Linked DNA regions of Homo sapiens: region 2 is linked to region 1. The links come from fine-mapping of genetic effects on gene expression. A gene starts in region 1. The other region holds a variant in brackets. All regions are shown on one strand. Distances are from middle to middle.

Region 1 (2,900 bases):
GGCTTGCGCCTATAATCCCAGCACTTTGGGAGGCCGAGGTGGGCGGATCACGAGGTCAGGAGATCGAGACCAGCCTGGCCAATATGGTGAAAGCCCGTCTCTACTAAAAACAGAAAAATTAGCTGGGCGTGGTGGCACGCGCCTGTAGTCCTGGCTACTCGGGAGGCTGAGGCAGGAGAATCGCTTGAACCCAGGAGGTGGAGGTTGCAGTGAGACGAGATCGCGCTACTGCACTCCAGCCTGGCGACAGAGTGAGACTGTCTCAAAAAAAGAAAAAAGAAAACAAAAAACAACAGGGCGGTTGCACAGGCCGTGCAAATGCACAGAAGCCTCTTGAGTCCCGGCGATCCAGCGGCCCAGACTTCTGACATCCTGGAGAGGCTGGCCCACGTTGGAAACTGGGAGGCCCTGAGAGTTGAGGGACGTGGAGCTCCTTGTGGAGAGAGTGGGTGGGCTGAGAAGACACCACCAAGGGGCCTGCGCCCTCGCCCTCGCCCTCGCCCTCCTCTCGCCGGGCTCTGCAGGCGGGGAGGTGGAGAGCCTGGGAGTCGCGTGCAAGGCAGGCGTCCCGGTGACGCAGGGCCTGGTGCATTTCTCCAGCTTGGTCTTCTGACCTGGCCCTTGTCTGACGTCCCCCTAAGGCGAAGAAAAGCAGGTTCCTGCCGGGGTAACCAGAGGGCTCGCGGAGCAGAAGCGCGCCAGGGACGTTACTGTAAGCTGCGTGCGCAGAAACCAACGCGCTGGGTGGCGGGCGACGCGAGCCGCCGCGGACACCGGCCCGGACAGCTGGACCGTGGCGCACTAGGCGCTTCCTAAATGATTGCCCGGAGTGACTCGCCGAGACCCCGTGTGTACACAAGTGGGACGAGGGGCGGGCGCACAGCGGCCAGGAAGTCGGGGCCCAGCGCACCCCTCAGCGGACCATCCCGCTCCGTGGGGCCGGACAGGACCCCGGGACCACGCGGGAGCGATGCAAGGTCCGTTCCCGCTGCGCGCACTTGCGGCCCGCAGCCCCGGCCCTGGGAGCTGCCACGGCTCCCAGGGTGCTCTGCGCCGGTGCGGCCGCGGCGACTACGACTCCCAGGGTGCTCTGCGCCGGCGCGCCCGCGGCGACTACGACTCCCAGGGTGCCCTGCGCCCCGTCAGCCTCTCCAGGCCCCGCCTCAGGTCGGCCGCGGACTACAAATGGACGAGAGAGGCGGCCGTCCATTAGTTAGCGGCTCCGGAGCAACGCAGCCGTTGTCCTTGAGGCCGACGGGCCCGACGCGGGCGGGTTGAACGCGCTGGTGAGGCGGTCACCCGGGCTACGGCGGCCGGCAGGGGGCAGTGGCGGCCGTTGTCTAGGGCCCGGAGGTGGGGCCGCGCGCCTCGGGCGCTACGAACCCGGCGGGCCCACGCTTGGCTGCGGCCGGGTGCGGGCTGAGGCCATGGGCGACCGCGGCAGCTCCCGGCGCCGGAGGACAGGGTCGCGGCCCTCGAGCCACGGCGGCGGCGGGCCTGCGGCGGCGGAAGAGGAGGTGCGGGACGCCGCTGCGGGCCCCGACGTGGGAGCCGCGGGGGACGCGCCAGCCCCGGCCCCCAACAAGGACGGAGACGCCGGCGTGGGCAGCGGCCACTGGGAGCTGAGGTAGCGGAGCGCCTGACCCCCTAACCTCTGACCCAAGGGCCCCGCGACTTTCCGGGGTTGGCCGAAGCGCGAGCTCCGAGTCCGAGAACATGGGCCCTGGGCTAAGCGGGGATCGGTGTGCCCTATGGGCCCTGTGGGGAAACTGAGGCTTGGGGAGAGTCACCTGACAAGGTCACTGGGTAGGGGCTCTGGAGCTGGCCTTGGCCAGGCAGAGGGGAGCCGGCAGGTGTCCCGCATCCAGATCCTCTTGGGTCTGTGCATCCTCAGGGGCTCCTGAGGAGCTTTTCGAGGGGCGGGCTGGTGGGGGCCCGGCCCTGGACAGTGTCCCCTTATATGGAAGGAGTCAGATAAGATCTGGGCAGTTTGTGGTGATAGGTTCCTTCTTGGTGCTATGAGCGGTGCCTTGCGGGTAGGAAAGGCTCCCAGAGGAGGGCTGGCCTGCCAGGGAGGGGGCCAGAGGAGCCCAGGCCTGTCCGAGGACAGGGGAATCAGCAGCTGCCCCGGACAAGGGGCAGTGTTAGAGGCGTTCTTGTCCTTGCAGACCCTTCTGAGAGTGGCTGCGTGGCCCATTCATTGCTCCAGTGGTTAGGCTGGCCTGGAGCCCTGCCGATGTTGCCAGAGCCAGCGTCTGTTGTAGGGACAGAGAGTTGGGTTCTGTGTTGGGACTTCCATCCTCCAGGTGGGGAGTGGGGTATGGGGGTGGTGGACACACCTGCAGGCGTGTGCCCTGCTCAGCTGGATGACTGACAGAGAGGGGTGGAGGGAGAGAACCATGGCCGATGGGAAGGACTTGGCCAGCCTGGGCATTGGCTTCCTCCACCAAGCTGGCCTTGAGCAATCCCCTTGCCACCCTCCATCCCCCCTTTATGGCCTTTACCCTGGCCCAGGGGCCCTCAGGGCTTTGTTTTAGAGAGCAGCTGAGGGCCTAGAGGTTATCAAGGCAGAAGTGGGCTGATTTTGGACATGTAGTTGGCAATGATTTGCTCTCTCAGTGAGCAAGAACAGAGCTTTCCTTCACGGGGCACCATGGGGAGGGGGTTGGGGGAGGGCAGGCACTGTCGTGGCCCTCAGGGTGCTCAGTTCATCTGGGAGATAAGATAACCTCAGCGAGAGTCAGGCATGGAGCAACATGGACAAAGGTCGGGCACGGAGGCCTTGAAGGGGCCGTGGGGAGGAGGGTGGCCCTCCTGAGAGGGGTGCTTGCCTGCTGTGGGCCTGGGGTGCTGGTGAGGGAGGCTGGCCTAGGCACCTCCTACCTGAAAAGGAGGTGTGG
Region 2 (2,900 bases), 27 kb after region 1:
TGGGGTTACGTATGTTTTTGGGAGGAAGATCAAAGAGGTAGAGTGCTGTTCTCATCATCCTATCAAGAGTACACAACAGGCCGGGCGCGGTGGCTGACGCGCCCAACACTTTGGGAGGCCAAGGTGGGCGGATCACGAGGTCAGGAGATTGAGACCATCCTGGCTAACACGGTGAAACCCCATCTCTACTAAAAATACAACAAAATTAGCCGGGCGAGGTGGCGGGTGCCTGTAGTCCCAGCTTCGTGGGAGGCTGAGGCAGGAGAATTGCTTGGACCTGGGAGGTGGAGGTTGCAGTGAGCCGAGATTGTGCCACTGCACTCCAGCCTGGCAACAGAGCGAGACTCCGTCTCAAAAAAAAAAAAAAAAAAAAAAAGAGTACACAACAGTGATACGCATGTCACTGCTGATGGTGAGCATGGTCCCTGGTGAGGCTGTGTTGCTGGAGGTCTCCACTGGAAAGCTGCTCCTCCTGCTTCTGTGCTCTGCTCTTTGGAAGAGGGTCACTAGGTAAAGCCCAGGCTTCTGGAGTGAGGAGTTAAGCATCACCTCCTCGAAGGGGAACTATCTCAGTAAACAATGTGGAATTCTTCTACTTGGGAGATTAGTTCCAGTGACATTTTGTCCAACTTGCTTCTTTTCTGTATCTTCCATTTCTCAGTCATGTTTTCTTATTTTTTGAGACGGGGTCTCGCTCTGTCACCCAGGCTGGAGTGCAGTGGCACGATCTTGGCTCACTGCAAGCTCCACCTCCCGGGTCCAAGCAATTCTCCTGCCTCAGCCTCTGGAGGAGCTGGGACTACAGGTGCCCGCCACCACGCCCGGCTAATTTTTTGTATTTTTAGTAGAGACGGGGTTTCACCATGTTAGCCAGGATGGTCTTGATCTCCTGACCTCGTGATCCACCCGCCTCGGCCTCCCAGAGTGCTGGGATTACAGGTGTGAGCCACCACGCCCAGCCCTCAGTCACATTTTTGTGTTATTTCTTTGAGCACAGGGAACATTTTTATAATTGTTTACTGTCTTTGTTGGCTAATCCTATCAAAACTGGGCCTGCTACTGGACCCCCTCCAGTGACAAGTCCATTTTTCTGCTTTGGCTTGTCTGCCCATGACTGATTAGATTCTGGACGTGAATTTTTTTTTTTTTTTTTAGAAGGAGTCTTGCTCTGTTGCCCAGGCTGAAGTGCAGTGATGCGATCTCGGCTCACTGCAACCTCTGCCTCCCGGGCTCATGTGGTTCTCTTGCCTCAGCCTCCCAAGTAGCTGGGACCACAGGCGCCCATCACCACACATGGCTAATTTTTTGTAGTAGAGACGGCGTTTCACCATATTGGCCAGGCTGGTCTTGAACTCCTGACCTCAGATAATC[C/T]GCCTGCTTCGGCCTCCCAAAGTGCTGGGATTACAGGTGTGAGCCACTTCGCCTGGCTTCCTTCTCTCAAGAGTGCTGTGTGTACTCCGTGCTAGCAGGCAGTGGTGTTTCCAGGGCTTGCCTTGCACTTGTTTCCACGGCATTGGAGTGGCCTTTCCTCTGCAGCTTATTCTGCGCCACTTCCAAGCTGTGTTTCCTCTAAGGTGTCATGAAAGCTCCTTGTATTTAAAGTGGCTTCTATACTCTGGCTGGTGGGAACTGAAATAACCACGGCCCTGTGTGAGTCCTGCTCATCTGTCCCCTTACACTTACTCTTCCCCTTCAAGTTGCTCTTGGTCCAGCTCCACGAGGTTTCACTGTGTGCACCAGCAAATCGGATCCAACCCAAGATGCAAGCGGGCTCACGCGCAGATTGCTGGAGCTCTTTGTTTTGGGCGTAACTCCTTCCTTTCTGGTACCACACCCCACACATTCTAGCTGCCTCAGCTGCCCCAAAGTCTGGGTTTGTTGGGTTCTCTGCACGTGAGTCTGCAAATTCCCTCCACATAAAAAGCCTGGACAATTTTGTGGTTTACCTCAGTCCTCGCCGGTTTTTTCTTTTCTTTCTTTTTTTTTTTTTGAGACAGTTTCTCGCTCTGTGGCTGGAGCGCAGCGGCGCAATCTCGGCTCACTGCAACCTCTGTATCCCAGGTTCAAGTGATTCTCCTGCCTCAGCCTCCCGAGTAGCTGGGATTACAGGCACGCACCACCACGCCTGGCTATTTTTTTTTTTTTTGTATTTTTAGTAGAGACGGGGTTTCACCATGTTGGTCAGGCTGGTCTTGAACTGCTGACCTCAGGTGATCCAACCGCCTCAGCCTCCCGAAGTGCTGGGATTACAGCCGTGAGCCACCGTGCCCGGCCCTAGTTTTGTAACGTCTGAACATTTTCAGCGGCTTCTTATGCCTTAAGGGTTAAATCCAAGTTGAACATGTCAGGCAACCCCTACCTTAGGGGCCATTATGAATTTCACAGGGTCTGCTGGTGAACCCATCAGAGAACCCAGTGTCTCTCTCATCTTCCTGCCTCAGTGGAACAAGGTCCCTCCTCTGCTGACCACAGGCACCTCTTGGAGGAGTCACCGGTCATAACTGGATATCACGAAAACCTGCCACTGGAAATGGGAGGCCCCTGGCTGGTGCGAGATGCCACACGCTGAGAAGTGTAGGTGTCAGCAAACCCCGCAGCTTGCAGTAAACTTGGAGCCTGTGGCCTCATTTTCTGCAGCACTGTGAAGGACCTGAAATGTGTGTGAGATCCTGCCTGTAGGGACACCTTACATAGAAAGTGTCTGTGTCTCTGAGTATCTTCTCAAAGGGCTCCCTGGCCCAAAACGTGAACAGTGCCGTATTCTACAAGGTGGCCCCACAGCCCAGGCCACAAGCCTCTTGTTCCAGCCTCCTGCCAAGTCAAAGCTGTATCTGCTGACCGGTGATCTGGGCTCCTGGGCTCGGCTGGCCGGCTGTTCCCTCTCCGGGTCCCGGGAGTAT

The links. PIP is the estimated chance that this variant, and not a neighbour inherited with it, causes the effect. A credible set is the group of variants that fine-mapping cannot tell apart.
Region 2: its variant is the best candidate, but not a certain one, in a credible set for the expression of DGAT1 in whole blood (TOPMed, PIP 0.57).

What each region holds. Positions count from the first base shown.
Region 1 is chr8:144,325,164-144,328,063 of GRCh38, reverse strand. DGAT1 (diacylglycerol O-acyltransferase 1) reads left to right here and starts at 1,212. Exons shown (of 17, transcript NM_012079.6): 1 at 1,212-1,627. The coding sequence starts at 1,428. RefSeq lists silencers at 786-1,505, 1,516-1,585.
Region 2 is chr8:144,297,689-144,300,588 of GRCh38, reverse strand. The region is part of intron 1 of HSF1 (heat shock transcription factor 1); the gene reads right to left. Among named protein-coding and RNA genes, the nearest start is that of HSF1, 7.5 kb to the right of the region's middle. The variant C/T (reference allele first, on the strand shown) is at 1,372.